2 separate regions of the Homo sapiens genome follow, and region 2 is linked to region 1. Evidence: fine-mapped expression QTL. A gene starts in region 1. The other region holds a variant in brackets. All regions are shown on one strand. Distances are between the middles of the regions.

Region 1 (16,478 bases):
AGTAATTAAAAGTAATGGCAAAAACCGCAATGACTTTTGCACCAACCCAATATTATTCAGCAATAAAAAGGAATGAAGTATTGAGCCATACAACAAAATACACGAACCCAAAGAACATTATGCAAGTAAAAGAAGCCAGTACAAAAGGCCACATATTGCTGGGTGCACTGGCTCCTGCCTCTAATCCCAGCACTTTGGGAGGCCAAGGCAGGCGGATCACCTGAGGTCAGGAGTTCGAGACCAGCCTGGCCAACATGGCAAAACCCTGCCTCTACTGATAATACAAAAATTAGCCTGGCATGGTCGCACGCGCCTGTAATCCCACCTATTTGGTAGGCTGAGGCAGGAAAATCACTTGAACCTGGGAGGCAGAGGTTGCAATGAGCTGAGATCACGCCACTGCACTCCAGCCTGGGTGATGGAGTGAGACTCCATCTCAAAAAAAAAAAAAAAATTTTAAAAAGGCCACATATTGTATGATTCTATTCATATGAAATGCCCAGAATAAGGAAATCTATAGAGATAGAAAGTAGATTAGTGGTTGCTAGGGTTGGGGGCGAGAGTTAGAGGAAAATTGAGAGTAACTGCTAAGGATTGAAGAGGTTTTTCTTTGGGGGGGATGAAAATGTTATAAAATTGATTATGGTGATGGTTGCACAACTCTATGAATATACTAAAAATCACTGAATTGTACACTTTAACTGGGTGCATTGTAAGGTATGTGAATTATATCACAAACTGTTTAAAGAAAAAAAAAAGAATTATCTGGGGACGTGAGCCCAGAGAGCAGGCAGCCTAGCCCACAGTCACAGCAGGTGCCCTGGAGTCAGGTGGGGCTGAGCCCCAAGGACGTCTTCTCAGTCACTCTTCCACCTGTGAAGCCAGGAAAAGGACCCTACCAGTGGGTCCTGAGAGCCTTGGCTTCAGAGGAGCCCCTCCCATGGTCCTCAAGGCCAGTCAGGGGATGCAGCTCCGGGGTTCTAGAAGTGAGAAGGGCTGTGGCACTTCTTTATTTCTATCCCTGCAAGAGCTGGCGGGGGCGGGGGGGGCTCTCACTGGGTCGATGTTTGGGGTGGGTGTGAGAGGAGAGCATGGCACGAGGCAAGGAAGTATAAAGTAAGATCAGTAATTCCATGTTTTTTGAGCACTTACTATGCATCTGGCACAGTGTTAAATGTGAAGCAATTGGAGTGCAAAGAAGCATAAGAGCTTCTCTGTCCTGGAAAACTTGCCAAGGCTGCATGGAGACAGATGTATAAAAGATCCATGAGATGTGGTGCTAAAGCAGTGCGTGTGCTAGGACAGTGGCCCACAAAGAAGACACGGGGAGGGATGTGTTTCTATTCTTGCAAGCAGCTTTGTGCATCTGCATGGCACCATTGCTGTGAGCATGGGTCTACCCTGAGTGCCTTTCCTGAGGGAGGCCTGAGATGGGGGAGGTGCTTGAATGATGGAACCTGGGTGTTCTGTTCTAGGTTTTGGATTCCTGGAAGCCCATAGTTCCAGTCCTGAACAAACGGACCATGAACAGAACTGCCCCGCAGATATAAAGGTGATGAGGCTTGCAGGCCAGCCCACCAATGCTCGTGGAGCTGCTAACAGAGCCCAGCCATTGCACAGTACTTCTGTGTCTCATCTTAAGGCTGTAATATTTAAAATACAGACAAGTACAGTTAGTTAATGATGGGGATACATTCTGAGAAATGCAATACTAGGCAATTTCATCATTGTGCGAACATCATAGAGTGCACTTACACAAACCTCGATGGTATAGCCTATTACACACCTGGGCTGTATGGTATAGTTTATTGCTCCTGGGCTACAAACCTGTACAGCATGTTACTGTACTGAATACTGTAGGCAATTGTAACTCGATGGTATGTATTTGTATATGTAAACATAGAAAAAGTACATTAAAAAATACTGCATAAGGCCGGGCACGATGGCTCACGTCTGTAATCCCAGCACTTTGGGAGGCCGAGGTGGGTGGATCACGAGGTCAGGAGTTTGAGACCAGCCTGGCCAACATAGTGAAATCCCCTCTCTACTAAAAATACAAAAAACTAGCTGGACATGGTGGCGGGTGCCTGTAATCCCAGCTACTTGGGAGGCTGAGGCAGGAGAATAGCTTGAACCCAGGAGGCGGAGGTTGCAGTGAGCTGAGATCGTGCCATTGCACTCCAGTCCAGGTGACAGTGCGAGACTCCGTCAAAAAAAAAAAACAACAACAAAAAACTGCATAAATGATTTTTTAAAATGGTACACCTCTATAGGACACTTAACATGAATGGAGCTTGCAGGACTGGAAGTTGCTGTAGGTGAGTGAGTGAGTGGTGAGTGAATGTAAGGCCTAGGACATTACTGTACACTACTGTAGAGTTTGTAAACTTAGTCCACTCCATTTATTTTTCAATTTTTCTTTCTTCAATAATAAATTAACCTTATCTTACTGTAACATTTTTACAAACTTTTATATTTTTAAAACTTTTGACTCTGTTGTAATAACAGCTTAAAATACATTGCACAGCTGTACAAAAATATTTTCTTTCTTTATAGCCTTAATCTATACTATTTTTCTATTTTTTTTTAACTTGCAAACCTTTTTTGTTAAAAATGAAGACACAAACACACACATTAGTCTAGACCTGCACAGGGTCAGGATCATCAATGTCATGTCTTCCACCTCCACATCTTGTCCCACTGGAAGGTCTTCAGGGGCAATAACACACATGGAGCTGCCATCTTCTATGATAACAATGCCTTCCTCTGGATACCTCCTAAGGGCCTGCCAGAGGCTGTTCTACAATTAGCTTTTTTTTTTTTTTTTTTTTTTTTTTTTGAGATGGAGTCTCACTCTGTCACCAAGGCTAGAGTGCAATGGCGCGATCTCGGCTCACTACAACCTCTGCCTCCCTAGTTCAAGAGATTCTCCTGCCTCAGCCTCCCAAGTAGCTGGGACTACAGGTGCTCACCACCATGCCCAGCTAACTTATATTTTTAGTAGAGACGGGGTTTCACCATGTTGGCCAGGTGGGTCTTGAACTCCTGATCTTGTGATCCACCCGCCTCAGCCTCCCAAAGTGCTGGGATTACAGGCGTGAGCCACGGTGCCTGTCCAGCTTTATTTTTTTAAATAAGTAGGAGTATACTCTAAAATGACAGCATACATTTATTATCATTATAAGTATTATGTACTGTACATAACCGTATGCGCTAGACTTTTGCATAACTATCAGTGCAGTAGGTTTGTTCCACCAGTATCTCCCCAGACACATGAGTAACATGTTGCACTATGATGTTACAACAGCTACAACGTCACTAGTTGATAGTAATGTTTCAGCTCCATTATCATCTATGGGACCACCATTGTGTACGAAGTCCATGGTTGATGGAAATGTTGTCATTATGCGGTGCATGACTATATGTTATAGATTATGTAAGGGTAATTGAGTTCCAAGTTCCAAGTCAAAAAATGTTTGGAACACAACTCCTTTGCTAGCAAATTAGACACTTACAGTAGCTAGTTCCCAGGGAAGTCCCCTGAAATACTTTAAGGGCCTGAATCACTGCTGAGCCAGACAGCATGTAGGAGAAGGCTCCTGGGTCTCATGTGAAGCTGGAGGGGTGCCTGCCCTAGAGATTCCGACCCTGCCTGAGGAACCCATTCATCCCATCTGGCTGAGACCTTGGTGGATCCAGGACAGCTCAGCATGCTGGCAGTCAGGGACAGGAGAGCCAAGGACCGCAAGGTCCCATTCAGCCTTGGTGCGATTCAGGCCCAGTTGGGTGTCTGGTGCTAGGACTAGGTGCTTTCGGAGGGAGATGGGAATTGACACATGGGCAGCAGCCCGCGGCAATGGCAGAAACAACCTCGGGGCTGGAAACAGAAGCTGTAATTACAGGAGAAAACACCCACAATGAATTCCAAAAGATGACCCTTTTGCTCCCTAGAACCAGGGAGGGAAAGGAAGGGGAGGCACGATCTCCTGGTAAAAACAGGGTAACATGAAAAATGCTGTGCAGTCAGGCTGAAAACTAAACAGATGTGAGTTTCTTTAATACAAAAGTTTAATCATTCTGACGTTTTCCATAACTTAATCTGAGCCATCGCTTCAGCTTGAATTATGCATAATGAAATGGATTATTTACAGTATCTCACATGACAGGAAAAACTGAGAGGTGAGAATTGGTAGCTTGGCAACTGTTGTTTATTTTTCTTTTTATTTGGCCAATATATATTGAGTACCTACTATGTTTCAGCCCTTGCCAGGGTCCTATTAGGAAAAAATAGTGTGGCACATGCCTGTAATATCAACACTTCGGGAGGCGGAGGTGGGAGAATCGCTTGAGCCCAGAAGTTTGAGACCAGTTTGGGCAACATAGGGAGACGTCCTCTCTAAAAAAAAAATTTTTTTAATTAGCCTGGTGTGGTGGTGCACGCCTGTGGTCCCAGCTGCTCCAGAGGCTGAGGTGGGCGGATTGCTTGAGTCCAGGAGATTGAGGCTGTAATGAGCTATGATCGCGCTGCTACACTCTAGCCTGGGAGACAGAGTGACAGTGAGATCCTGTCTCCAAAAAAAAAAAAAAAAAAAAAAAAAGTATTTTTAAAACACATAGTATGGGCCAGTTTCTTTCACTTCTTTCTCTTGTGTATCGCTTGCGATGATACTGTGTAGCAGGTATTATTTTCCCTGATTTACAGAAGTGAGTGGAACTGAGATTCTGAAAGGTTAGGTAAATTGCCAAAGGTGACACAGCAACACTCCCTTTTGTTTTGTTGTTGTTGTTACTATCTATGTGCTTCGAACAGAGACCTATCGACTAGCTTTCCTAATCTTACTACCTTTCCTTCATGCTTTACACAAGAAAAGTCAACTTTTCTTAAGGGAAAGGTTCTTGTTATTTTGAGCAGGAAAGTAAATGACCAAAATTGTACTTTGGGGAAATTAACCTAAGTTTCTGTAGGATGTGCTGCGGGCCAGAGCCCAGGCCAGAGGCAAGGACCTTAAGCCAGGGCAGTAGCAACAAGCATGGGAAGGGGCCCGGCAGCAGGCCCTGGAGGCTGGAAAGGGCTTGTCAAATGTTTGGATGTGGTGGAAGGGAAGGGCAGCCTTGCCACCCTAGGTTTGGGACGCAGGGGACACAGGGGACACTGGCAGGTGGCGCAGCCTGGGTCAAACCCCTCACTCTCTGAGCCCTTCTTGCTTGGCACCCTTGCAAATAAATGCCTTCCTTTCTATTGCTGCAAAAACCTCGGTGTGGATATCCGGTTTTACTGCACAGGGTGAGTGGACCCAGTTTGGTTCCATAACACTGTCTCCCTCTATCCCTCGTTGGTGACCTCCGTGTAGCAGGTGCTAAAAGCTGGTTCACCTGTGGGGCATGTGTAGTTTTCAGAGCGCCTGTGGGGTCTCGTCCAGACTGGGAGGCTCTGACTCAACTCCCCACCTTCTTCACTGCATTCCTGCCCCCAGCCTTGGGCTGCTGGCCTCTCCTCCCCTAGCTGGCAGAGGAATGGGAGAGGTGGTCCAAGCCCAGCTGCCTTCCACTGTGCCCACTACTTCTCTTACTGCACCATGTCAAGGGGACAGGCCACTGCTCGGCCGTTCTCTCTCTGCTCTGCTGTTGCTCCTTCTCAGTGGAGACTAGACCCCAGCCCGCGTTTGTTCACATGCCACATCTTGTGCCCTGGCACAGGGCTGTGTGGAACAGAAAGGCATCGTGAAGGGCAAGACCTGCATCACTCCCCAGTGGGCAGAAGCCTCACCACTCCAGTAACCTTCCTTCACAGCCTTCTTCGAGGGCTGGAGGGGCGGTGGTGGGGGGTGGAGTCAGAGGGCAGTCTTCCACCTCAAGTCAGCCTCGAGGAGGGGTCTGCTCCCAGCTCTCAGATCTTGTCTTTAGAACGAGTGCCAGTTAATTCCCAAGTCTGAATCCTACTCATTGATTCAGGACAGCAGAAAAACTCCCACTTCCCACCCCTGTTTCTGGAAATGACCACAAGCCTGGCTACAGGGCGACCGAGACCATCATGGGTGGACTACGCACGTCCAGCTCTTAGTGTGGTCTCCGTGTCTCGGTTTTCTCTTTTGACTTCTCTTTTGGAGCTCTTGGTTGAGACACTTGGTGAGTGTGGACTTTTAAGGTAAACTCTGAGCTGACCAGGACTGGCTGGTTGGTCTCTTGGGTGCTATGCAGTCACAGAAGCAGGTAATCAAAGAACAAACAGTCCTGTGGTGTTTGGAGTCTCCCTTGGCTACCGCCAAAGCCTCTGTTTGATTTCTTGCATGGCAACAAAACCAGGAGGGGAAGCTGAGTGGCTTCTGGAATAAACTTTGGGTGTGAGACGGGATTCAGGCTGTGGCTAATGTGCTGGAAGCACGCACAGTTGTGACCATCAAGTATGCAGGAAGCAATCATTCTCCTGGCTCTCCTGGGTGCCATGTCAGGTAGGAACTCAATTTTGCTTTGGAACCTTGCTTGCCTACTTGGTCTGCATAATACCATTGAATGACAATGTCCCCCAGAAAGGAAATTGCCCCTGGGAGGCTTGTTCAATTGAGGGCTTAGCTGCAGTAATGAATGAGGTGATGCCGCTCCAGGGAGCCCTGGGGGACCAGGTAGGAGCCCTGGAAAAGAGAGATGCTTAAAGAGCCTAATCTAATCTATGTTGGTGTAGACTTCACTTTCCCTCTTGGGTTAACTGGCCTGCATTTGGTAGTCCTCCTGAGATTTAAGGTTGGGAAAATAGTGTTCATAGCAGAGCTTTGTGAGTATGTCAAGTGAGTCTTTGTGGAGATTCTGGCCCTTTTCTGGAGGCTCGTAGGGCAACTTGAGGTTGACAAGTGATCCTTTGAGGAAAGTGAGTTACTGAGGGGGTGTCTTCCTCTTGAGCAAAGAAAACACCTTCTGATAGAAGGGTCAAAGACTCAAGCTAGTGATCATTTTACTCTCTCTTCCTCATTCAAGGGCATCAAGAATCTTAGATGATCTTTTTAATGTCAGCTTGGATTATTGAAATTGAGATTTTAAAATTAAATTTTATTTCTGAATAGGTAGTATATGCATAATATATTGAATTTATGTTAAATTTGCAAATTAATTTAGGGATAATTTACATCTTTGACAAGTTATGTAGTAAAATACTTAGAAGAGTGTCTGAGTACATAGTAAATGCTTAGTAAATGTTAGTGAGTATTATTTATGATCTTGAGTCTTCCTAATCCAAGAACAGGGTTCTAGATACTTGTTTGAGTCTTCATTTGTTTTTCTTAGGAGTATTTTGAGGTTTCCTTCATATAGATTTGGTACATTCTTATTATGGTTATTTCTAGTTCTTTTACTTTTTCTTTTTTTACATTTGTAAATGGAATCTCTTCTTCCCTACATCTTTCAACTGATTATTGTATGATGTATGGAAATCTGTTAACAAATTATCTTATTATTTGGCATGGTTTTTCAGGTGATTCTCATGAATTTTCCACGTTTGAAAAAATGAACATTTATATTCTTCTTCTCCTATGTCTATAGCTCCTATTTTTTTCTTATCTAACTGCCAGGCCTGGACATTCTGACCATTATTAAATAATGACAAGAGTGTAAATTCCTGTCTTGTTTCCCATTAAGCATGATGTTAACTTTTGGTGTGAGAGAGAAATGTTTTATATGTTAAGGAGGTGGCTTTTATTCTTATTAATATAAGAATATTACAGTATTTATTTCTAAATAAAAATATAATAAAACTAAATGTAAGAATATTCAAGTACTTATTTCTAAATAAAAATGGATTTTTAAATCAAACGCTTTTTCAAGATCTATGAAAATGACCATTTAATTTTCCTCTTCGATCTGCTAATAAGATAAATAAATAACTGGGTTTCCTAATATTGAGCCCTCTTCTATCTTGGGCTTTTCAACTCAGCAGAGGGCAGGATGACCTGTGAATGTGAAGTGGGCCATGAGCAGTTCAGACTGTCACTTGAAGTAAACATTTCAGATTTCCCCCAGAAATATGGGCTTTTAGGGCCACAATCATTTGAGTCGAGGTGACTTTTATTGTCACTGGGGAAAGAGTGAGGTTAGGAAGAACCCAATTTCTTATACTGAACACTATCATTTGGAATTTTATCAGAAGTGTGAAAGGGATAGATCACAAAGGTTTGCAAGAAATACTTGAGATTTCTTATTTAAAACACACAATAGAATCCCTTAGGTCAAATCTTGTTTTTGGAAGGGCTACTGTGACACAAACTGTTTCTTTTGTGAGTCTGAGAACCTGGTCATTACCCTCACACTCCAACACCTGGGCTACAGAGGCTTCTAGCGGGGCAGCCACATCAGCACCCCTTCAGGCTGTTGGAAGCAGGCATCACTATAATAATCTCAAATAAAGTAACATACAGTAAAAAATTAGCAGAGCATGAAGACGGGTGCCTATAATCCTAGCTACTCAGGAGGCTGAGGCAGGAGAATCGCTTGAACCCAGGAGGCGGAGGTTGCAGTGAGCTGAGATTGCGCCATTGCACTCCAGCCTGGGCGACAGAGTGAGACTCCATCTCAAAATAAGTAAATAAATAAAGTAACATAGAGTATCCTCTTTCCTTTCATGTGTTCTAACTCCTATGCTTCCTTCAAGGCCCAACTCAAGCCCCACCCCCCCCCATGGAGTCTTCCTGGATTGACCTAGCTCCTGGGGAGTGCTCCTGCTGTTGCACCCTGGAGCTCCTCTTGCCTGCACATGGACTGCCTGCAAAGAGTTCAGTCCAGCACCTAATGCAGATTCAGTGCTCAGCCAAAAGTAGCATGAGCTATCATACTGTAATTCATCTGTTATATGGCCATTTCTGCCTCCTCAACTAGAATGTCAGCCCTGCAATAACAGATTTCATATATCTTATTGCTCATTGTCCCTGTGTGCCACATATATAGAGGATATCCAATACATATTTGCTGTTTTTATTTTTATACTTTTTGAGTCTGGTATGGTTTTTTCCCCACATTTACTGATACACCCCAAATGTAGAGCTTTAGATCTTCTTCCTGCTTGATATTGACATTTAAATTCACTTCTGTCCTTTCCACCTCCTATGAAGATGAGTTTCCCTTTGTGAAGCTATAGTGCCTATTCCACCAACAGCTTACAAAGGGAGGCTCTACAAGAATATAAACTAGACAAAACTTTCAACTGCCCCAGTGGAAAGAGTTGAGACAAAGCAGTCATCTGGCTCCATCAGTCCCAAAGGATCACATGTGAGTCCCAGAAGATGAAGGACATAGAGAAGGACCCTTGGTATTTTTAAATCCACTGCACATGGAAGCTGTCTATGTTTTGAAGAAGCATCCAAGGAACCAGCTTTTGTATTACCCTCCTGGAAATGAAAAATGCCAGGGTATTTAATGAAAGAAGGGATCCTTGGGAGCCAGAAGATTCACATGGACATGAAAAGGTACCAAACCCATCCAACTGAGTTTGTCCGCAAGCTCTGGGCAAGAGGCAATCACAGCTTTCTTCAGCCCATCATCTGTGCGTGGTTCTCTGCTAGCCAGTGTTGGCAAATCAAACAAAGGCCCAAGACTGAGTTTCTTATTCTCCTTGGTAATTAAAATGTAAATGCTTCTTAATGCTCTCATCATATGAAAAGGCTGGAAGATGCAATCCATTTCTAGAAAGTCTTTCTGTCAGCCAATTAACCCTATGTATCAGGCCCAAAGAGTGTTGCAAGAGGTTTCTACTTTTTCCGTCATGTCACTTTCCTGTTCAGAGTCACCTCAGAAGAACAAAAGACAGTCCCTTCTCTCAGCTCTTCCTTGCCCATGGCAACCTCACCCCCAGTGCAAGCAGTCAGGCAGTCACTGGAATCCATCCACTTTCGCCTCCATGTAGTTGGAAGAGATTTGAAAGAAACAAGCCTTTCTCAGGCCCACCCCATAGTGATGCTCTAAGATAAACACGTCTGTTTCTTGCCAGTTATGACCTAGCTGGTGCAAAATTAATCTTGGTTTTTGCCATTGAAAGTAATGGTAAAAACCACAATTACTTTTTTTTTTTTATTATTATACTTTAAGTCCTAGGGTACAGGTGCACAATGTTCAGGTTTGTTACATATGTATACATGTGCCATGTTGGTGTGCTGCACTCATTAACTCATCATTTACATTAGGTATATCTCCTAATGCTATCCCTCCTCCTTCCCCTCACCCCATGACAGGCCCCAGTGTGTGATGTTCCCCTTCCTGTGTCCAAGTGTTCTCATTGTTCACTTCCCACTTATGAGTGAGAACGTGCAGTGTTTGGTTTTTTTGTCCTTGCGATAGTTTGCTAAGAATGATGGTTTCCAGCTTCATCCATGTCCCTGCAAAGGACATGAACTCATCCTTTTTTATGGCTGCATAGTATTCCATGGTGTATATGTGCCACATTTTCTTAATCCAGTCTATCATTGATGGACATTTGGGTTGGTTCCAAGTCTTTGCTATTGTGAATAGTGCCACAATAAACATACATGTGTATGTGTCTTTATAGCAGCATGATTTATAATCCTTTGGGTATAACCCAGTAATGGGATGGCTGGGTCCAATGGTATTTCTAGTTCTAGATCCTTGAGGAATCGCCACACTGACTTCCACAATGGTTGAACTAGTTTACAGTCCCACCAACAGCGTAAAAGCGTTCCTATTTCTCTGCATCCTCTCCAGCACCTGTTGTTTCCTGACTTTTTAATGATCACCATTCTAACTGGTGTAAGATGGTATCTCATTGTGGTTTTGATTTGCATTTCTCTGATGGCCAGTGATAATGAGCATTTTTTCATGTGTCTGTTGGCTGCATAAATGTCTTCTTTTGAGAAGTGTCTGTTCATATCCTTCACCCACTTTTTGATGGAGTTGTTTGATTTTTTCTTGTAAATTTGTTTTAGTTCTTTGTAGATTCTGGATATTAGCCCTTTGTCAGATGGGTAGATTGCAAAATTTTTCTCCTATTCTGTAGGTTGCCTGTTGACTCTGATGGTAGTTTCTTTTGCTGTGCAGAAGCTCTTTAGTTTAATTAGAACCGATTTGACAATTTTGCCTTATGTTGCCATTGCTTTTGGTGTTTTAGACATGAAGTCCTTGCCCATGCCTATGTCCTGAATGGTATTGCCTAGGTTTTCTTCTAGGGAAAAACCACAATTACTTTTACACCGACCTAATATAATGTACAGAATCACTAGTTGAATCACCTTTCCTTCTGTGTCCTATAAAGGGCTCTTTTCTGTTAATCTTGCTTGGCCTGGATTGTTCCTTGTTCCTCCCAAAAAAGGGGGTGGGTGAACATCTCATTCAGGAAGAGGTATATATTGTGGAAATTAAAGAAATAGGAAAAAGTTGCATATGTTGAAACAACATTTGACAATGCTTTATAGTTTACTGAGCATATGCATTTTCTTTTCTTTCTTTCTTTCTTTTTTTTATTTTTTATTTTTTTGAGATGGAGTCTTGCTTTGTTGCCCAGGCTGGAGTGCAGTGGCGTGATCTGGGCTCACTACAACCTCCACCTCCCAGTTCAAGTGATTCTCCTGCCTCAGCCTCCCAAGTAGCTGGGATTACAGGCAGCTGCCACCACACACTGCTAATTTTTGTATTTTTAATAGAGGTGGGGTTTCACCATGTCGGCCAGGCTAGTCTCAAACTCCGGACCTCAGGTGATCCACCTGGTTCGGCCTCCCAGAGTGCTGGGATTACAGGTTGAGCCACTGTGCCTGGCCGAGCATATGCATTTTCTTATGTGGCATCTGTGCTGTGAGAATAAGTTTCCATAGGCCTGATATTAGCCTGAATTTTTCTGCTGAAGTTCGTGAACCACACTGACCCCTAGTCAAGGCATGAAGCATGCTGATTAATAGTGTTGCTTTGGCTAGGTGCGGTGGCTCACGCCTGTAATCCCAGCACTTTGGGAGGCTGAGACGGGCAGATCATGAGGTCAGGAAATTGAGATCATCCTGGCTAACACGGTGAAACCCAGTCTCTACTAAAAATACAAAAAGTTAGCCAGGCGTGGTGGCGGGCACCTGTAGTCCCAGCTACTAGGGAGGCTGAGGCAGGAGAATGGCATGTACCCGGGAGGCGGAGCTTGCAGTGAGCAGAGATCGCGCCACTGCACTCCAGCCCGGGGGACAGAGCGAGACTCCGTCTCAAAATAAAAATAAAAATAAAAAAAGTGGGCCGGGCGTGGTGGCTCACGCCTGTAATCCCAGCACTTTGGGAGGCCGAGGCGGGCGGATCACGAGGTCAGGAGATCGAGACCATCCTGGCTAACACGGTGAAACCCCGTCTCTACTAAAAATACAAAAAAAAATTAGCCGGGCGAGGTGGCGGGCGCCTGTAGTCCCAGCTACTCGGGAGGCTGAGGCAGGAGAATGGCGTGAACCCCAGGGGGCGGAGCCTGCAGTGAGCCGAGATTGCGCCACTGCACTCCAGCCTGGGCGACAGCGAGACTCCGTCTCAAAAAAAAAAAAAAAAAAAAAAAGTGTTTCGTTGTAACCGTGGGTCCTAGGAGTTTCTGAATGGTTTGTAGCAGCTTGTAAGCGTTGTTTATTGATAACAGTGGGATTGATTATTTGCACCTGGTCTCAACGAGGACCTTCTGTGGGTTCTGCCGTTGAGGCCAGTTATAGAACAAGAATATGCCTACAGCAAAATAGAAAAAAATCCCAGTAAAGACTCCATAATTCCAAGATATTTGTGCATACATTGGCTGTTCCTGATCCAAGACAGTGCATTCTTCCGTCCCATAGAGAAAAGACAACAGTAAGAGCCTAGCCTGCACCTGGCCTCTGTGGATCTCCTGCTGAGGCAGCCTTCAGCTGTAGTGCATATCCTTACTTTCATGTTGTTGCTATGCTGTATCCGTTTTCTGTAATAAAACTGTAGATTTATAAGCATTGTCACTTGGGTCCCATGAGTCTTCTTTAGCAAAGGAACCCTGTTTAGTGGCTACTGTTAATGTAGCACCATAGCCCTGAGAGACAGAGTTGACAGGAACCCCCAGAGAAGTCAAGGGACCAGCCTAAGGTCACACAGTCAAGCAGTGGCAAAGCTAAGACTTGAAGCCAGGGGTCTGATTCCAAATCTCTCGTTCTTTTCACAGAACTGATTTTGTTCACTGCTGTTTGATTAGGTACTAGAGAGAATGAAGAGGTAGCTATTGAGTGATGGTCTCAGGGAGTCCTGCTCTGTGTATTGAAAGCAGAGCTCTAAGTTAGAGCAGCTACACCCCAAGAAGAAGATGGCATCACCCCACATTCTTGACCCGCATCTCCACTTTCAGTGTCAAAGGTCCAGGGTGGCCAACTTCCTCCTCTCTGAGACTGTGGAAGGCTTAATTATCCCAACATAGGCTCCCAGGGAAGCCCCATTGGTCCATTTCTGGAGAGGCAGTGATTCAAGGGAGACAAGTGAGCACATCCTGCATCCAGATCTTAGCCACAAGCAAGATGTTTCAGTGGGCGCCATGGCTGACAATAAATCTTTTGCATGCTCTTTCTTTTCCAAAGTACGTGCTTCAAGCAATTCTAATTTGATTCTTAATTAAGATGCATGTGTAAGTCAAATTCCATTAGAGCCTCCTTCTTGCTCTCTAGCACTCAGACCACCAAAGAAAGCCTGGAAGACCAGCCATGGAAGGAAAGTATGCGGTGTTTTAGGGAGAGCTGGCACCTGGCCTCTAATCTTCCCTCTGCCATTGACCAGATGGGTGCCTTTGGATACATCACTTAAGCTTACCTGTATAACAGATGGGTTTAACATTTTGTGAATATTGTATCTTATTCATTACTCTATTTTTAGGGTATGGACCCTAGTCACTTATTATCCTTGCTATTGCTATTATTACTACTACTACTTCTTTTACAAATAGCAATAGAGCTGGAGAAACCGGATTTTGAATTAAGGTCAGGAGAACCCAGCTTGGCTATCTTTTTAAAAAAATCAGTATCCCCAGCACTTTGGGAGGCCGAGGCAGGTGGATCACAAGGTCAGGAGATCAAGACCATCCTGGCTAACACGGTGAAACTCCGTCTCTACTAAAAATACAAAAAAATAGCCAGGCATGGTGGCAGGTGCCTGTGGTCCCAGCTGCTCAGGAGGCTGAGGCAGGAGAATGGCGTGAACCCGGGAGGCAGAGCTTGCAGTGAGCCAAGATCGCGCCACTGCATTCCAGCCTGGGAGACAGAGCGAGACTCCATTTCAAAAAAAAAAAAAAAAATCAGTATCCCTAGGACTGCCTAGGTCTGCCTCAAAGGACTGCCTAGGACTGCTAGGTCTGCCTAGGTCTGCCTCAAAGTTTTAAGGATTCATTTGCATGACCCTGGCACACACGGCCTTGCCCTGGGAAGAGAGGCCACCTGAAAAAATGTAGATCATTTCTAGCAAGAATATCGGCAGAAAGGGCATATCCAAGGACAGTCTGGCTTTCACCATACATGGGACAGGCGGTTCCCAATAAAAATTGCTTGAGAGTCACTGGCTATATCCACTTCTTCAAAAATATCTCTCACTGCCATTCAAAATATGACCATTCAAGGAGGACGATAAAAAACACTCTGATTTAAGGAGACATCATGGAGCTGTCCTTGGAGTCAGATGCCTAGGATTGGAATGCTGGATCTTTCATGGAATTAGTCTCTCAGACCCAGGAATTATCAAAGTTATGATCAATTCAAGAAAATCAGTGGATATACTTCTAGCAAAGCAAACCAGGAGCTATCAGCAGGCAATATTTGGGGAGCATGGCTTCTCTACAGTCCCCAGCTCCCCAAAGGAGCTGCACTAAGGTTGGGAGGCACAGTGATCTCTCCACTCGGGGTGAGGCTGTGGAGAGCCCTGAGTGGAGCTTAGCAAGTCCCTTCTACCTGAGCTCACACCACGCTCACACTCCAGCACAATTCTTCGTGTTGTTCCAGAAACAGCCTCTTACAAATCACATCATCAAGATCTAACATCCAGGTTAAAGGTCAATTTCTTACCAGCCCCCACAGCCATGTTGTTGCAGTGTCCCAGGGTGACTGAATAACTATGATGCATCCTATGTGCATGGTCATGTGACAGGCATGGAGTGACCGACTGTCTGTAGTAGGTATGTGTAGTCTGTTAGGTACAAGATCCAGATACCATGAGCCAGGGCCCTCCATGACTGTTCCCTGAGTGGTATAATCTCAGATGTGTGCAATGGTGACAGCAGTATAATCTCAGATGTGTGCAATGGTGACAGCAGTATAATCTCAGATGTGTACAATGGTGACAGCAATACCTATGTCGGAGGATTGTGCTGGGATTAAGGGGATCAGGCAGTCAAGGAGCTAGCATGATGCCAGCTGAGCAGGTGCTTGATAAATGAAATGGGTACTTATTTTAGTCTATTCGTTTGGGCTAGGCACGATCTTACCCTAGGCTATTATTGAGAAAAACATAGCAAGTTCTAACTTTGCTTGTTGCCTGGAGGGGCACGAGTCACTGGAGAGGGTTGGAGGGGGCAAGGGAAGAATATGGGTGAGAATGTGGGCATCCCATGAGACAGATTGCCAACTTTCCATTTCCTGTACAGCTGTCCTTGTCTTGCTAAACAGTGAGGGAACACTCTCATGAACAGCTCAGAGAGGTATGCATTTGCGAGAAAAGAGAATGGGAGGGAATTATGCCCCAAATACCCAACCCATCAAAGCAATAGAGTATTTTGCTCATTTTGAAAAACTGTTTTTGAGAGCTTTGTCTCTAAATACTCCAACCATACTCTTTCACTCCTGGTTTTTACCATAAGAATGCTATAATATCAAAGTCAATTGTAATAGATTTTTAAAAATCTATTCATATTCGCATCACCCTAAACTTCAGCTGTTTTGATATTTCTGAGTCCTTGCACAGTCCTTGTCCATAAAACTTGATAATTCTGCGAGCGACAATAACTTATGCATTATGCATTTTAGCCTCTAAACTAAATAAGATGACTTTAGATTTTAAAAGCTTGTATCAGTGAATGTGCTTATATTTCAATTTTTTCCTCTTTTCCATTTACTCCTCTGCACTCACCCCACCCCGCACCAACTGAAATAAAACATCCTGGTTTGTTTGTTCCTAGAACATTTATACCTTTCAGTGGGACAGAACCTTCTACTGTCCCTACCCACTCCGTGCCTCCTACTTGTTCAGGGTTTTCTTCTCAGGGTCTGATGGTGGCTGAGATTGGGAAGCTGGCTGGGAAGGGGGACCTGTGTAAATCTTGGCTCTGTTATTTATTATTTGCTGTGTGGATTTCAGCTCAGTTTCCCCATCTGTAAAATGACATTAATACCTGTCTGAGAGGAGTGTTTGAGGAGTAAGTGAAATACAGGATTTTACATTTTGCACTTATTTGTAACATTGGATAAATGATCATTGTATTCGTTTCCTAGGGCTGCTGTAACAAACTATCACACAACAGAAATTTATTCTGTCACAGCTCAGAA
Region 2 (16,478 bases), 99 kb before region 1:
CTTCTGACTTGCAGAGCATCACTCATCATGACTTCCCATTTAACTTCAGTGGTTCACCAGACCCAGGCTAAATACTGTGCTCCCTCTGAAAGGTGGGAGAAGGATTATTTTAAGTATAATTATCTTCTTCCTTCCCCAGGTTAAAGTAGAGGGTCACTTGACTGTGTGGGATAATATTTCTCAATGTTTTTAAACTCATGCTCTACCAAGATTGGATCACACTTTACTTCCTGAGGTTTGTACTACAAAGCTCACTTTCTCTCTAAGACTTCCCACTGATTGTGGTTTTCACACTATACAAGCATCTTCTTGAAATTCTAGTGTACCCAGTCCTAAACCTTGTTCCTCCTTAGCTTAAGAATCACAGGCCATCACCTTCACCTTCAAGATTAGGCTACAGGGGGAAAAAAAAAAGAATCATAGGCTGGTGCAGTGTTCATGCCTGTAATCCCAGCACTTTGGGAGGCTGAGGCAGGAGGATTGCTTAGGCCCAGGAGTTGGAGACCAGCCTGGGCAACATAGCAAGATCCTGTCTCTACAAAAAATAAAAAGTTGGTGTGGTGTGGTAGTATGTGCCTGTAGCCCCAGTTACTCGGAAGGCTGAGGTGGGAGCATCGCTTGAATCAAGGAGGTCAAGGCTGCAGTGAGCTATGATCATGCCACTGCACTTCAGCCTGGGCAACAGAATGAGACTCTGTCTCTCAAAAAATGAAAATGAAATAAAATAAAAGAATCATCAGTGTTCAACTACTTACTATGAGCACTGATAATTAAAGAGAAAAACTTAACTCTGCCCTTTTAGGAGGAATTTAATAGTTCATCCCCTGTTGATGGGAAAGATGTCTTCTATATTGAAGAATGTCAACCAATAAAAGCAGATCAGAATGACAGAATTTGAAAATGACCATCCTACAATCCCCAAAGAAATAACTGATCCAGGCAAGGGTCATCAATGAATGCCCAGAGGATTCCACAAAATTTCCTTTTGGGGGACAGGATATTCACTGGGTGTCAAAGCATTACCCACAGAATGACATGCTAATTGCAGAAGGAAAATACAACGTTTGCAATGGGCAGCAGTGGTCACCACCTTACGAAGTCATCCATATCTAATAATAGGGCACCCTGATATCTTGTAACCCCTGGATGGGATGCTTAATGAAGCACTCAGAATCACCTGGGACACATTTGCACCAAAATGTTGAGTCTGAATCCAATGATACTTAAGCTCAAACTTCCAGAACAGGAGAAAAACAGGGAATAGCAAAAACAAGGTAAGACACCACAAGGAAGTGACAAGACAGACCAGAACAGGAAGCATTTTAAATGGCAATGTTTTATATATTTATATATAAAAATATGTATACATATATATAGAAATATGTATTATACATATATTCACACACATGTGGGGGAGGGACACTGTTCTAGATTAAAAGCTACTGAAGAGATATAACAACCAAATGCAGTACATGAACCATAACAGGATCTAGTTTGAAAAATGCAGCTATAAGCTTTTGGGGGTGGGGGCATGACAGGTGAATTTTGAACGAGAACTGGGTATCAGATATGAGTATGGAATTACCATTAGTTTTCTAAGTGTGATACTGGTATTATGATTAGGCCAGAGAATGCCTCTAATTTTAGGAGATGCATGCTGAAGTATTTAGGGGTGTCATGCTGTCTGTGACTTACCAAATAGTTCAGCAAAAACATACATACATATTTATGTATGATGAGGCTCTGAGAATTTAAGTGAACAGCTCAAGGTAGCACAATCAAGATGTGGAAAAATGATAAATATTTAAAGGTGAAGTGTCGTGATGTCTATAACTTATTTTCAAATGCTACAGAAATATAAATATATATATATACACATACATATACATATACACACACACAGTCGCATAATGACACTTTGGTCAACAACAGGCCCATACTCAGTGGTCTCATAAGAGTATATAATACCATATTTTTTACTGTACCTTTTCTATGTTTCAATCTGTTTAGAGACACAAATGCTTACCATTGTGTTACAACAATTACCTACAGTATTCAGTACAGCAACATGCTGTACAGGTTTGTAGCCTAGGAGCAATAGGTTATACCAATGGGAATATCATAGAGTGAACTTACACAAACCTAGATGGCATAGCCTATTGCACACCTACAAAATCACCTAATGACATAACTCTCAGAACATATCCCCATCATTAAGGAATGCATGACTGTATATTTCTTTTTCTTTCTTTCTTTTTTTTTTTTTTTTTTGAGACAGAGTCTCGCTCTGTTGGCCAGGCTAGAGTGCAGTGGCACGATCTCAGCTCACTCCAACCTCTGCCTCCTGGGCTCAAGCATTTCTCCCACCTCGGCCTCCCAAGTAGCTGGGGTTACAGGTGTGTGTGACCATGCCTGGCTAATTTTTGTATTTTTAGTAGAGATGGGGTTTCACCATGTTGGCCAGGCTGGTCTCGAACTCCTGACTCCGGGTAATCCACCCGCCTTGGCCTCCAAAGGCTGGGATTACAGGCATGAGTCACGATGCCTGGCCTGTATATTTCTTTATAAGACATATATACAGATAGATCTTTATATGTAAATATATATATATATATATACATATATATATATATATATATGAAAACAAGACAAAATGTGAACTAATGTTTAATTCTATAGGTGATCATGGTACCGTTATTTCAACCTTTTTATACATGTGAAAAATTTTAACACTGAGCTGCAAGGGCAAAAAAGAGAATGGTGCAGAGTGGGGGTTACTACTGAATATTAAATGAAAAACTTTAGGTGCTCAAAGATGTCTGTGACTCTGCACCCCAGCGGTAGCATTTTTTCATGGAATTTTCTCTGCTGACCTAGGATGCTGGAGCTAATGTCCTAAGGTGAGCTGTGTTTTGCATTGTAGCTCCAGCTATCCACTTGAACAGAAACTTTAGGAGTCCTTCCAGTTCTTAGAATCTTGACAACTTCAAAATATCAGATGGTGAATCAAAAAACCTCATAGGCCATCTCCAGACTGACTTTTTAAAAATGAAAATACAAATGGGAACTGTTGTTTCATGGGTATGAAGTTTCAATTTTGTAAGGTGAAAAGAGTTATGAAGATTGGCTACACAATCATGTGAATGTCCTTGACACTACTGAACTTTACACTTGAAAATGGTTAAGATGGTATAGTATTTTACCACAATTTTCTTAAAAAAAGAAAAAGACAATACAGGTATTTCAAAAACAAGATGCTTAGTCGAACTATAACACTGCTGGTTGAAAGATAACTTAGGAAAGAAAAGGGGATGATATGATCGCTTTTCCTCCACCTTGCCTCCAGAAGATTCTAATGCAGCTATGATGACAAGACACATGTGGACCATGGGAAGAGTCTGCAGCAGTGCAAGGAGGTGCGAGATTTGGGGGCAAAGTACACGCTGGGCATGGCTAGCATGCACAGGGTGCGGAGAAGGTCCAGGCGGGGTGGCCCGAGCGGCAGGGTGGCTTCCTTAGAAAGTATGGCTGGCCCTGGGGAAGGAGGATGAGGGGCAAGGGGAAGGGGAGAAGGGGAAGACACTAGATGCAGAGGGCAGGCAGAGGCAGAGAAGGGGGCAGGGAAAGGACTCCACTTGTCCAAAGTGCTGCTGCAAAGGGCAGGCCACCTGTCCGGATAGGAAGGGACTGAGGACTTTGAATGCTGTGTTAACTGGTCGATGAGGGAGTGCTGAGAGGTTTTCACTTGAGGAACAAACTGATACATGTGAATTTTCAGAAGATTAATTTTTGAAGTGGTGTGCAGGGAAGATACAGACAGGAAGACCAATTAAATAGCTATTATAAAAATCTAGGTAGGCTATGAGGCAGGCTAGCTGGGATGGGGGTGGGGGAGTGGAGAGAGATGGAGAGGTGCAGGGAATTGCTAAGATGGGAGGGAGGGAGGAGAGGAGGAGGGGGTCTTTCTAAAGATAGTGATGGGGAAAACGCACAGGCTCGGCTTGCTCTTGGGTCTAGTGGAGTCTGAGATGCACAATGACATCTGTGAGGGGCTGTCTGGTGCGGCACCCGGGGGTGGGATGAGCACTCTGTGGAGGAGAGGTCAGGAAAGCTGCAGGCATGTCAGAATCGCCACACACAGGGACCACCTGGGGTGTGAACAGGAGCCAGGGTCCGGAGCAAATGCAGAGCAAACCGAGGGCAAAGCCTCACGCTCCAAGGGAGGAGCTGGCAGAAAGGGCACAAAAGCGGGTGCCATGAAAACTTCTGTGAAGCAAATATGATTTTCAAAAAGCTGTAGGGTTGTCTACTGTTTAAAGAAATGCCCAGTAACTCCATTTGGAAAGCAAATAAGCCCCTACTCTGTTTAAACCTGGCTTGTGTACCGGGTTTGTGTTCTGCCATTAAGTCTTTTGTCTCAGCCACTGAAAGTGGCAGGACTCATCTGAGTCCCTAATTCTCTCTGGGTCCTGCCCCGCTTCTGCAAAAGATGATGAGGAAGGGCACAATGATGGAAGGAGTAACTCAAGGGAACAGAAGCCTGGAGTCTGGGGACTTGGCTAACAGGGCTGTTGTACATGGGTTGGCCAAATGGATTCAACCTTAAGCAAATGTAACCAGTTCTGGTGGGCGTGGTGGCTGACTCCTGTAATCCCAGAACTGTGGGAGGCTGCAGTGGGAGAATCGCTTGAGCCCAGGAGTTCGAGACCAGCCTAGGCAACATAGGGAGACCCCGTCTCTAAAAATAATAGAAAAAATTAGCCAGGCATGGGGGCGTGCACCTGTGGCCCAGCTACTTGGGAGGGAGGCTGAGGTGGGAGGATCACTTGAGCCCGGGAGGTCAAGGCTGCAGTGAACTATGATTGTACTACTGCACTCCAGCCTGGGCGACCGAGCTACTGCCCCTTCCCACCCAAAAATGTGACCAGTTCCTCTTTTCCAGTGGATCACCCTCTTCTTGACAGTCTGGCTGGGATTCTGTCCCATTAAGTGTAAAAGGTGCTTGAACCCACAAGCTCCAGGTCCTTATCAGAAGAATCAAACCACCAGCTGGTAGACAATGGGGTCTGGGGCCCATCGAAGGTCACCTGAAACCCCACACAGAGGAGGTGATTAATTAGGAGAGGGGACAGCACTGAGGAGGAAAGGACTGTCAAGGACTCTTCTGGTCTGTGAAACCACTGAGAGAGAGACAGGGGGGTGACACCAGCTCCTCTGGGACCAGCAGGGCAATCACTATAAAATGCTTAAATGTCCCAGTTAATGGAGAATGGGTGAAATCCAAAGTCACGGGAAGTAAATGTTGCCACATCGCCCTGTCCTCATGTGGGAGATGCATTCTGTGCCTTTCCCAGCCACTCCAATCCAAAGGATCCTCTTTGTCACTGCCCTCTCAGAGACAGTGACAACTAGGGCATCTCTGTGGCTGAAGAAGGTAAAGGACTTTCACACCCACTTAGCAGGCATATCACCATCAAAAGGACACCTCTAATGTGGCAGTATTGAAGAGTGATCTCCGCTCCATCATCCTAGAGAGCACACCCTTCATGAAATTACTAACAATCCCAATGCCATGAGGGAAACTGAACAGCGGCCTAGAAGATGTTCAAAAGGAGGAAAAAGAGAGAAATCATCACTCTAGATAGACGCCCCTGGAGTTGCTTGGCAACCATCTTTGCTAACACCTTCTCCCAAAAAGGAACACAGTTTGCATTAGCTCCTGTGATTTCCCTGAGGCCAGGACTCTGGCCACAGAGGCCCCAAAGCTGGGGCCTTGGAATGAGAGAGCGTTTCCCTGATGGGGAGACCCAGGGCCCTATCAGGAGGCCACTGGCTTACACAGTCAAGGGGGAATGAAAGGTAGTTCAGCCTTGCCATTTTGCTTAAAGAACAAGCTCTCTTGGCCAAGGATGGTGAGAGGATGAGTGAAGTCAGGTGCCCAGGTGCAACACTTAAGGGGCACTCACTCCGCACTTGCAGAAGCCCACGTGAGCCCCTCCTTAAACAGGTGTCCTGGGTGCCTGCTTGCTTCCCCTTAGTCCTAACCCTGCTCCTAGGATGACAGACATCAGGACACAGTGCTTAGAGCACAGTCTCTGGAATCAGCCTGCCTTGGGGTTCAGGGCAGCTCTACTATTCCCCAGCTATGTTACCTTGGGTAAATCACTTGACCTCTCTGAGCCTCAGCTTCCCAATCTCTGAAATAGGGTTGATAACAGGATTTGCCTCACAGGGTGGTCATGAGGATTAAATGCGAACATGCACATTTAGCCCTGTGCCTGGCACCTAGTTAATGCCCAATAAAAGACAGCTAGGATTGTTACTTAAAAACAAAACAAAACAAACAAAAAAACACATAAGTTGGGCTGTGTTTAGCCCAAAAGGTACCAGAAAAATAAATTTAAAACACAAACAAAAAACTCCAAAAGGAAATACATAAGCAGCTCCCTAGAACCCCTGAACCTGGATCTATAGAATCAGAATCTCTGTGGGTGGTCCTGGCATATTTGCTTTTAAAAAGCTTCCCAAGGAATTTTCAAGGTAGGCAGGGTTGAGAACCACTTCTCTCAACCAATAAACAGTAGTTCTCAAAGTTCAGGAAACAACAGAGCCACCTGAGGAGCCTGTTTAAAATGCACGTTCCTGGTCAGGTGTGGTGGCTCACACCTGTAATCCCAGAACTTTGAGAGGCCGAGGTGGGAGGATCACCTGGGCTCAGGAGTTTGAGACCAGCCTGGGGAATATAGCAAGACCTTGTCTCTACTAAAAGTCAAAAAAAATTAGGCAGGCATGGCAGCACACGCCTGTAGTCCTAGCTACCTAGGAGTCTGAGGTAGAAGGATCGCTTGAGCCCTGGAGATCGACGCTGCAGTGAGCTTGATCATGCCACTGCACTCCAGCCTGGGTGGCAGAGAGAGGCCCTGTCTCAAAAAAAAAAAAAAAAAAAAAAAAAAGGACATTCCTGGTTCCTGTGCTTCACTCCCGGTTGTTTCGTTTTAGTATGACCAGCCTGGGGCCGGGGGCACGAAGTACCCTACAGGACAACACAGCAGGGTCTCCAGAATGAACACACTTTGCAAAACATTGAAACAGATTCATTCGTTTTTTTTTTTTCTTTTTTTTGAGACGGAGTGTCACTCTGTCCCCCAGGCTGGAGTGCAGTGGTGCAATCTCGGCTCACTGCAACCTCCGCCTCCCGAATTCAAGCAATTCTTCTGCCTCAGCCTCCCAAGCAGCTAGGACTACAAGCACATGCCACCATACCTGGCTAATTTTTGTATTTTTTTTAGTAGAGATGGGGTTTCACCACATTGGCCAGGCTGGTCTCGAACTCCTGACCTCATGATCCACCCGCCTGGGCCTCCCAAAGTGCTGGGATTACAGGCATGAGCCACAGTGCCCAGCCCCAGATTCACTCTTGAAACTAACAGTACAGGGACACCAGTCCAATCCCTTTGTCTTTATTCGGGGCATCCTTAAAGAACTGGAGACATACAAGTTGACAAAAGATGCCTGGTGAGCCCCGGGCATCCCCCGGAGCAGTAAGAACGCAGTCTGTCCCCTGGAAGTGGCAGCTCTTAAGACAAAGGCGAAGACCCAAGTGCCCGGTAAAAACAACGATCATCACAACAAAGGCTTCCATTACTGAGTACCTACTTTATACCAGATAGCATCTCATTTATTTCCACAACAATTCTGATAGGTACTATTATTCCTACTCTGGAAAAGAAAAGTAGAAATTGAGGCTTAATTTAATACACAGCCAATAAATGGTCAAGATTTAAATAATGCTCCATTAAACTCCCAAGCCTGCAATGCCAATGAACCTTTTTGTGTGTGGTAAAATACACATAACATAAAATTTACCATTTTAACTTTTTTTTTTTTTTTGAGACAGAGTCTCGCTGTGTTGCCCAGGCTGGGGTGCAGTGGCGCGATCTCAGCTCACTGCAACCTCCGCCTCCCGGGTTCAAGTGATTCTCCTGCCTCAGCCTCCTGAGCAGCTGGGACTACAGGCACGTGCCACCATACCCAGCTAATTTTTTGTATTTTGAGTAGAGATGGGGTTTCACCGTGTTAGCCAGGATGGTATCGATCTCCTGACCTCGTGATCTGCCCACCTTGGCCTCCCAAAGTGCTGGGATTACAGGCGTGAGCCACTGCACCCGGGCCATTTTCACCATTTTTTATGTGTACGGTTAGTTCTGTGACATTAAGTATATTCACAATGTTGTACAACCATCACCACAGTCCATCTCCAGAACTTTTGCATCTTCCCCAACTGAAACTCTGTATCATGG[C/A]AACACTAACTCTCCGTTTCCCCTCCCCCAGCCCCTGAATACCCACCATTCTACTCGCTGTCTGTATGAATCTGACTACTCTAGGAACTTCATTATACATGGAATCACAGAGTATTTGTCCTTTTGTGACTCATATACTTTTTGAGAACTGGACTATCACCTTGGTCTGATATAACCAAACTGGGACCATGTCTCCAGCATCTTCCATACCCCTGGAATGCTGAACTCACCTGTGGTTAATATCATCGGACTGGGTGTCCTGTGTCCCCACCCCACCCCAGGACTCTGTGGCCTGTCAATGCCTTGAGGTAAGGTCACGTAACTCACACTCCCCCTACAGTTAAGGGTATCCTTACACCATTAATGTTCACAGATTTACAATTAGCATCACAGAATCAGGTACACCGGTAAGTGCTTCTGTGTTCAAAGAGCCTGTCATCGACTCACTTTTATCTTCCCCATTATGGTGACCTGGTGCCACTTCGTCCTGCCCTGGAGAGTATTTATTTGGTTTCCATTTCTTCTGTAAGCACTTGATCCCTTAAAATTGGCAAGCAGAATTGTGTTGAGAAACCACAGGTACAAGGATAAAGTGTCTCCATAAAAACATTGCTTTCCCCACAGCAGAATTCCAGCTTCACTTATAGACGACTAGGGCAGCCAGGTCTAGCCCCTGAATATTAAGGATGCTCCGCTGTAGCCTCAGCCCACTTGCAAGAAGGGATTTCCTGAGGTTTCATCATTAGTTCAAGCGCCTCAGGGTCCAAATCCAGGTCCATTTGGCAGTCTGAGCTCTACCACAGGAGAGAGTAAGAGAATGCCAGCCAAACGGCATCAGCTGGGAGCACGTAATCAGCAGAACACTGGACCGGGAGATTTAGGAGACAGTCACACACAGAAGTCAGTCCTTGCCATTCCTACAATATTCTGAAAAAGTAGAACCCACTGGCTAAAGCTCTCCCTCTCCATTACGGCTATGTTTGATTATTGCAATCACTCAGTGACCACTGTCTCCAGATGTGAATAGTGGGCCACCTCAGTGTGTGGGGTCCTTAGAGAAGAGGGATTTGACCAGGACAAGGTCTCACTGCATTGAGTACTACCATCTTATGCCTACTTCTGAAATATGTCATGAATGAAACAAAATGTCATAAACGAAACGTTAACCTGAAGGATATAAATGCAACCAACCCGGAAAACCATACAGAAACAAATCTGCCTAACTTTTCTAAATCAATTCTGCAGCAGAGACGGCAGGCCCCTGGGAACCGCCGGCTGAAAGCATCAACATGGCCTCACAGTCTTAACTGATGCTGCAGACCACCTGGCACACAGGTCAGAAGGCCTCAGGAATCAGACCCTCCCCTGCCCTTTGTACCTTCCCAGGCTTAACATGGAAATCATGAAAGCAGCCACTTTGCTTTCCGTCATGTGCATCCCCATTTCAGACATATCCCGTGGGTAATCAAACTGCAGAGAACGCCAGTTGTATTTTCAGCCTGACTTTAAATATAAACTGAAATCCTTACTGCTTCACCAATGCGATGTGGTACTTTTGACATCGGGGGCCACTGTATAATAAATGCCATCATTACCAGAATTGATGCTTTGGGTCTCCTCCACCCACAGTGAAGGAGGGTTGGGCCACCCAGAATTAGAACCTGCAACTCACTATTGTCACCAGTGACTGCAGACTGGACTCCAAGGTTTGGAAGAGTCATCTTGGGAACTTTGGGAGGAGGGTTCCCTGGGGGACCGAGGCTTCTCTCTCTTTAGATCCTCCCAAATGTAGCTCAGCGCCAGGGGATAGTCACAGTACAGGTATATCTGCTGAGTAATCGACAAGGCTGACTTACATGGGCTGAAGGCCTAACACATGGACAGATATTGGCAGAATATTTCTGTATCTTAGTCTATTTTTCTTGTGTTCTTACCTCTCCAGCCTCACCAGCCAGTGATTCTCTATCAGAGCGATTTGTCCCCCTGGGACATTTGGCAATGTACGGAGATATTTTTGGTTGTCTAAACTTGGGGGAGGGGAGGGAGACACTGCTGGCATCTAGCAAGTGGAGGCGCAAGATGCGGCTCAGCATCCTGCCATACACAGGACAGCGCCCCCAAAAAGAAGCATCTGGCTCAAACCATCAGTGGTGCCACTGGTGAGAAATATTATACTACTGTGTGCTTTGCTATCTTTACTCCAGCAAGAGGACTTTTTAGGTTCAGAACAGTCTATATTCTCTGGCACTTGGGCCTTTATCCCTGTCGTTTCCTCTAACTCTGTCCTGCCCAGCTCTACACATGGGTAACTTCCTGTATCCTCCAGGTTTTAGCTTACATAAAATTTCCTCTGGGAGGCCGGCACTGAGCCCCTACCTCAGTGAGGCCCCCCCACCATGACCTCCAGCAGCACCTGAGTTTCCCTATCAGAGCACTCATCGCGGTCTACCTGTACTTTCGCCACCAGGCTGGAAGCACCCTGAGGGCAGGCAGGGGTTGTGGTTTTTCACTGCTGTGTCCCTGGTGTCTAGCCCAGTTCTGGCACGTCAGGAGAGCTCCCTCCAGGTCAAACACATAAGGGAGGCTGAGAAACAGTTGAGCGTATTAAAAACTTGGCAAGACACCCAGAGGCTTAAATTGTTACCCTACTATGCAGGCACCAAAAGAGAACATGGCGACTTCTCATGAACTGACATGGACAGCTCTCTAAGATAAATGGAAATGGCAAGATATCAGCTAATACTATAGGTTTCTATCATTCACGTGAGAACAAGAAGACAAAATTATATATGTATCTACTTGAATGCACACAGAATATCTTTGGAAGAATACACAAGCAACTGGGGATGGGGTGGGAGGGAGACTTACTTTCCACTTGGATAGCCTTTTGAATTTTGTAACATGAACATTATTAAAAAAAATAAGTAGTTTTAAAATGAATGTGTATGTGTGTGTAATGGTCTACATCTTCTAGCAGTAAAAACATTATTCTCATAGAATGATACAGGATGAGACCCTGGTACAGGGCAACTTAGAAGGCAAATTATCATATACAGTGTTTCCGTGTGTCCATTCTAGCTTCCTGTTGTGGAAGTAGACAGAGCCACATTTCTTCCACACGGGAACCCAGGCACAAGGAAATAATTGTATGTATAAAGAAATACTCATTTTGGAAGCTTTGTATTTTCCAAACTAGATGATCAGGATGTCCTTTCTCATCTGTGTTGTGTTGGTTGTGGCATGCCCCTGCTCCATCAGTGGGCTGCACCTGTAGAGCTTATAGGTCTCCAAGCCCTTCCCTTCTCCGTCTCATCTTTCCTCCCTACCACCTTTAAGCCGCTCCATCTCTCCCATCCTTCCATCCCAAAAGCTGGGCCAGATAAGAGAGATGATAATGTAACGCCAAAGTGAACAAATGTTACTGCTTGTTAGCAAAAGGGGAGGAAGGTAGGCTTAATGGGGAATGAAGTTGAAATTAATGGTAAAAATGAGGTTTATCTGTGTAATCTGTGGACTTTGTGTCTTCCCATCTCCTATTAACATAGATAACAGAGTTGTCTATAATGATAAAGGGAAGCTGTTCGCAGTTTCCCATAAATCTCCATGGCCTGCTGCTGGCTTCTCTGGCTTGGATTCTAAGAAAACTTCATTCTTAACCAGGTCAGTTGCCACCTTCTCCAATTTGCTCCCATCCAGCCACAACTGCAAGACTCCTAAGCCTGAGCTGAACATGCTCCTATGTTCTCTGCACCCTCCTATATTCCAGCCCAATTCCACCAGCATCTCAGAAGAACAGCAAACTCTTATAGTCACAGCAATATCTTACTGGCCCCAGCACAATTTTCAAATTGGAAACTTTCCACCAGTTTATCTACATCACATCAAAACATGTGGGAACGTTAAAACACAGGCAAGTTTTCAAAGTGACAAGTGTAGGCTTCCAAGAGACCCAAACAGGAATCTATTCAGGACTTTTTTTTTTCTCAGTGATAAAATAAAACAACTTATCGATCATTGAAAAAAGTTTTTTAGATCTCCCAGTCCCTAGAAAGAACTTTGTATAAACTCTTCTTAGCCATAGGCCATATACAGCCTAAGTATTATTCGACAGCTATTGATAAAACTTATCAATGATCACTTAACTGCACTCTATTAAAAACATTGATATCTGGCCGGGTGCGGTGGCTCATGCCTGTAATCCCAGCACTTTGGGAGGCCGAGGCGGGCGGATCACAAAGTTAGGAGATCGAGACCATACTGGTTAACACGGTGAAACCCAGCCTCTACTAAAAATACAAAAAAATTAGCCAGGTGTGGTGGTGGGTACCTGTAGTCCCAGCTACTCGGGAGCCTGAGGCAGGAGAATCACTTCAACCTGGGAGGTGGAGGTCGCAGTGAGCTGAGATCGCACCACTGCACTCCAGCCTGGGTGACAGAGGGAGACTCCATTTCAAAAAAAAAAAAAAAAAATTTGATATCCATAGAAATTGTTTCTTTAAAAAATCATTAGTGTCATAAAATTACAACAAAATGGTTTACTCTAAAAATAAAGTTTCTGCTACGTATCTTTTCTTTTCATCACAGATTAGTTTAAAATCCTAATTAGAATAAAGTTTTCTAGAGCTAGCTTCATTAATAATGATAATAATAGTAAAAGCCAACATTCATTAAGCACTTACTATGTGCTAAGCCCTTTTGTATTATCTCATTTAATCATCACAACAACCTTATTCTTTTCTGTCTTATAGTTAGGGACACTTATGAGGCACAGGAACCCTATTCCTTATCTATGAATTGGTATTCTTTAAAAAAAAATTCAGGTGAGGCAAGGGGAACATCTTTCTAAATCACTGAGAGCTTTTCCCTAATTAGCTTGAAAAAGCTGAGGAGGAAATTATTTGAAAAGGTTAGCACAGAAGAATGGCCGTCCTTGGAATTTTCTCTCATAAACACCTTTCACAGATTAGGCTAATAAGGTTTCTGGGAGTCCTCCTCTCAGGAAATCTGAATGCCTGACTGATCCAAGCTGACTGGGGTCAAATCATTCCTCACTAGGGGAACACATTGGGTTTTGGACTCAGAACCCCACTTTTCTCGGAATGCTGAAGGCCAAATACCATTCACAAATGATTTGCAGCAGAATATTGCTTGTGTATGAGATGCAGTGATTTTTGCCACCAAGAAGTTATAAATTGAGAAAATAAACCCAGTTATTTTTGAAGTAGTTTAAGATATTTTTAATGTGAGGGCTTGGGTTTTTTTTTTTTTTTTTTTAAGTTTCTTTAGAAACAGTTTGCCTGCTATAACTGCATCTCAAAGGAAGGTACATTCAATAGAGAAGCTTGGGTTCAGAGGTCTCAAAGGGACCTTAGAGGACATTCAGTTCCACCCCCCTTTCTTTAAATATGGGCAAATAGGCCAAGAGAAGTGAAACGACTTCCAAAGGGCATAGATCAAAATGTAGGAAGCTGACTCAAAGTGCTATCCTGCTCCTTCCAGTACCCAGGTTGTCCTGGATATAAGCCCATCTAAGCATATCCACCCATGGATCTAGCAACGCCTTCTGAACCCAGGTGATGACAACATTCAAAAGTATTTGGGGCCAGGTGCAGTGGCTCATGCCTGTAATCCCAGCACTTTGGGATGCTGAGGCAGGCAGATCACCTGAGGTCTGGAGTTCGAGACCAGCCTGGCTAACATGGTGAAACCCATCTCTACTAAATATACAAAATTAGCCGGGCGTGGTGGCGCATGCCTGGACTCCCAGCTACTTGGGAGGCTGAGAAAGGAGAATCGCTTGAACCCACGAGGTGGAGGTTGCAGTGAGCCAAGATCATGCCATTGCACTCCAGCCTGGGCAACAAGAGCGAGATTCTGTCTCAAAAAAAAAAAAAAAATTGGCAAATTCCTCTTAGCTATAATTTAGCTAATTTTAGATGAAATAATAACAATGACATGAAAACTTTATTACAGACATTTCAAAGCATCCAGTTAACATTTCATACTTTATAGGTGGAGAACTGAAAGAAATGGAAAGAATTGAAAGAAAGTTTAAAGGGGTGAGGAATGGGGAACTGTATTACAGTAATCAAGTTATTCAAAAAGTCTGCAAGTCCTTGCTGTGTCTTCTGAAGTTGTGGCCAGATAGAGGTAGAAACCAAAATAATTTTTTTTTTTTTTTGAGCTGGAGTCTCGCTCTTTCGCCCAGGCTGGAGTGCAGTGGTGCGATCTTGGCTCACTGCAAGCTCCGCCTCCCGGGTTCACGCCATTCTCCTGCCTCAGCCTCCCAAGTAGCTGGGACTACAGGTGCGTGCCACCACGCCCGGCTAATTTTTTGTATTTTTAGTAGAGATGGGGTTTCACCATGTTAGCCAGGATGGTCTCGATCTCCTGACCTCCTGATCCACCCACCCCAGCCTCCCAAAGTGTTGGGATTACAGGCGTGAGCCACCATGCCTGGCCAAACCAAAATAATTCTTATTTCACATTTCCAGCCTAACTTCTCTTCCTGAGTTTAGTCTATTAAAAATATATGACACCAATGTTCATAGTGGCATTACTCAAAATGGCCAAAATATGGAAACAACCCAAATGTCCACCAACAGATAAGTGGATAACAAAACGTAGTATATATACACAATGAAATATTATTCAGCCTTAAAAAGGAATGAAGTACTGATCCATGCTACAACATGGATGAGCTATGAAGAGATGCGAAGTGAAATAAACCAGATACAAAAGGATACAGATTGTATGACTCCACTTATATGAGGTATCAGAATAGGCAACTTCATAGAGACAGAAAGTAGAACAGTGGTTACCAGGGCTGAGAGGAATGGGGAATGGGGAGTGATTGCATAATGGGTACAGAGTTTCTGACTGGGATGATGGAAAATTTGGGAAATGGAAAGTGATGATAGTTGTGTAATATTATGAAAGTACTTAGTGCCACTGAATTGTATACTCAAAATGGTTAAAATGATAAATTTTATGCTATGTATATTTTACCACAAAAAAAAAAAAACATCAAAATCGGAACCACCCGCCGGGCACGGTGGCTCATGCCTGTAATCCCAGCACTTTGGGAGGCCGAGGCGGGTGGATCACGAGGTCAGGAGATCGAGACCATCCTGGCTAACACGGTGAAACCCCATCTCTACTAAAAATTCAAAAAATCAGCCGGGCTTGGTGGCGGGCGCCTGTAATCCCAGCTACTTGGGAGGTTGAGGCAGGAGAAGGGTGTGAACCCGGGAGGCGGAGCTTGCAGTGAGCTGAGATTGCGCCACTGCACTCCAGCCTGGGCGGCAGAGCAAGACTCCGTCTCAAAAAAACAAAACAAAACAAAACAAAACAAAACAACAACAACAACAAAAATCGGAACCACTTCCCTTCAATTCCCAGTTGGAATTTCTAAACTGTATTTTGTTCATTCATTCCCATTAAAGCCGAATTTCTTCTCAAGACCTGCTTAAAGCCAACAGTGTCATGGACAATCTACATACATTCATAAGCACAGGTACACAGCCACACACAGGCTACTTTGTGTCCTGCAGTGACCCATCCACAAACATGTATCCGTCCCAGGACTTTGTTGATCACTCCAAAAAGAGGGCCCATGGCAAGCATTACTGGAGATCCAGGTAACCAAATAAACACCCTGTCTCAGCTCAACCCTTCAATTTCTCACCATGGGGGAATACGTATTCAGTATATAGATATTTTATCTATAAAGAAAACTGCATGCATATATACCAGAAAGACCATCAGGAATTGCTCACCCAAGTCTGTTCCACCAGGCCTGTGAACAAAGAGATTTCAGCCCATATATGGCTATTTTGGTGAAGTTAGCAATTTCAAGTTACACTGAACAGTGGGTGTCCTTAATGCAAATATGTATAATTAGGAGCTAAATCTTCGTACCTTTATAGGACAAAGGACCTAATAAGCGGGATGTACCACCTGTGACTTCTGAGGAAAGGAGAGCTTTTCATTTTTTCTTAAAAGAATCCGTTTCTCAGCCAGGCACGGTGGCTCATGCCTGTAATTCCAGCACTTCGGGAGGCCAAGTGGGCAGATCACGAGGTCAAGAGATCAAGACCATCCTGGCCAACATGGTGAAACCCCGTCTCTACTAAAAATACAAAAATTAACTGGGTGTGGTGGCACGTGCCTGTAGTT

Alleles and levels. Positions count from the first base shown, and alleles are read on the strand shown. Sizes are in standard deviations (SD) of each study's normalised expression.
For the expression in breast of the gene that starts at base 6,349 in region 1, C is the high allele of the variant in region 2 and A is the other (small effect, 0.32 SD a copy in GTEx).

The links.
Region 2: its variant is fine-mapped to the expression of CDHR3 in breast (GTEx, PIP 0.93).

What each region holds. Positions count from the first base shown.
Region 1 is chr7:105,956,916-105,973,393 of GRCh38, forward strand. It overlaps CDHR3 (cadherin related family member 3), which reads left to right and starts at 6,349. Exons shown (of 19, transcript NM_152750.5): 1 at 6,349-6,449. The coding sequence starts at 6,404. RefSeq lists enhancers at 4,902-5,853, 5,854-6,805 and a silencer at 6,388-6,682.
Region 2 is chr7:105,857,530-105,874,007 of GRCh38, forward strand. All of the region lies in intron 2 of ATXN7L1 (ataxin 7 like 1), which reads right to left. Among named protein-coding and RNA genes, the nearest start is that of ATXN7L1, 11 kb to the right of the region's middle. The variant C/A (reference allele first, on the strand shown) is at 8,301.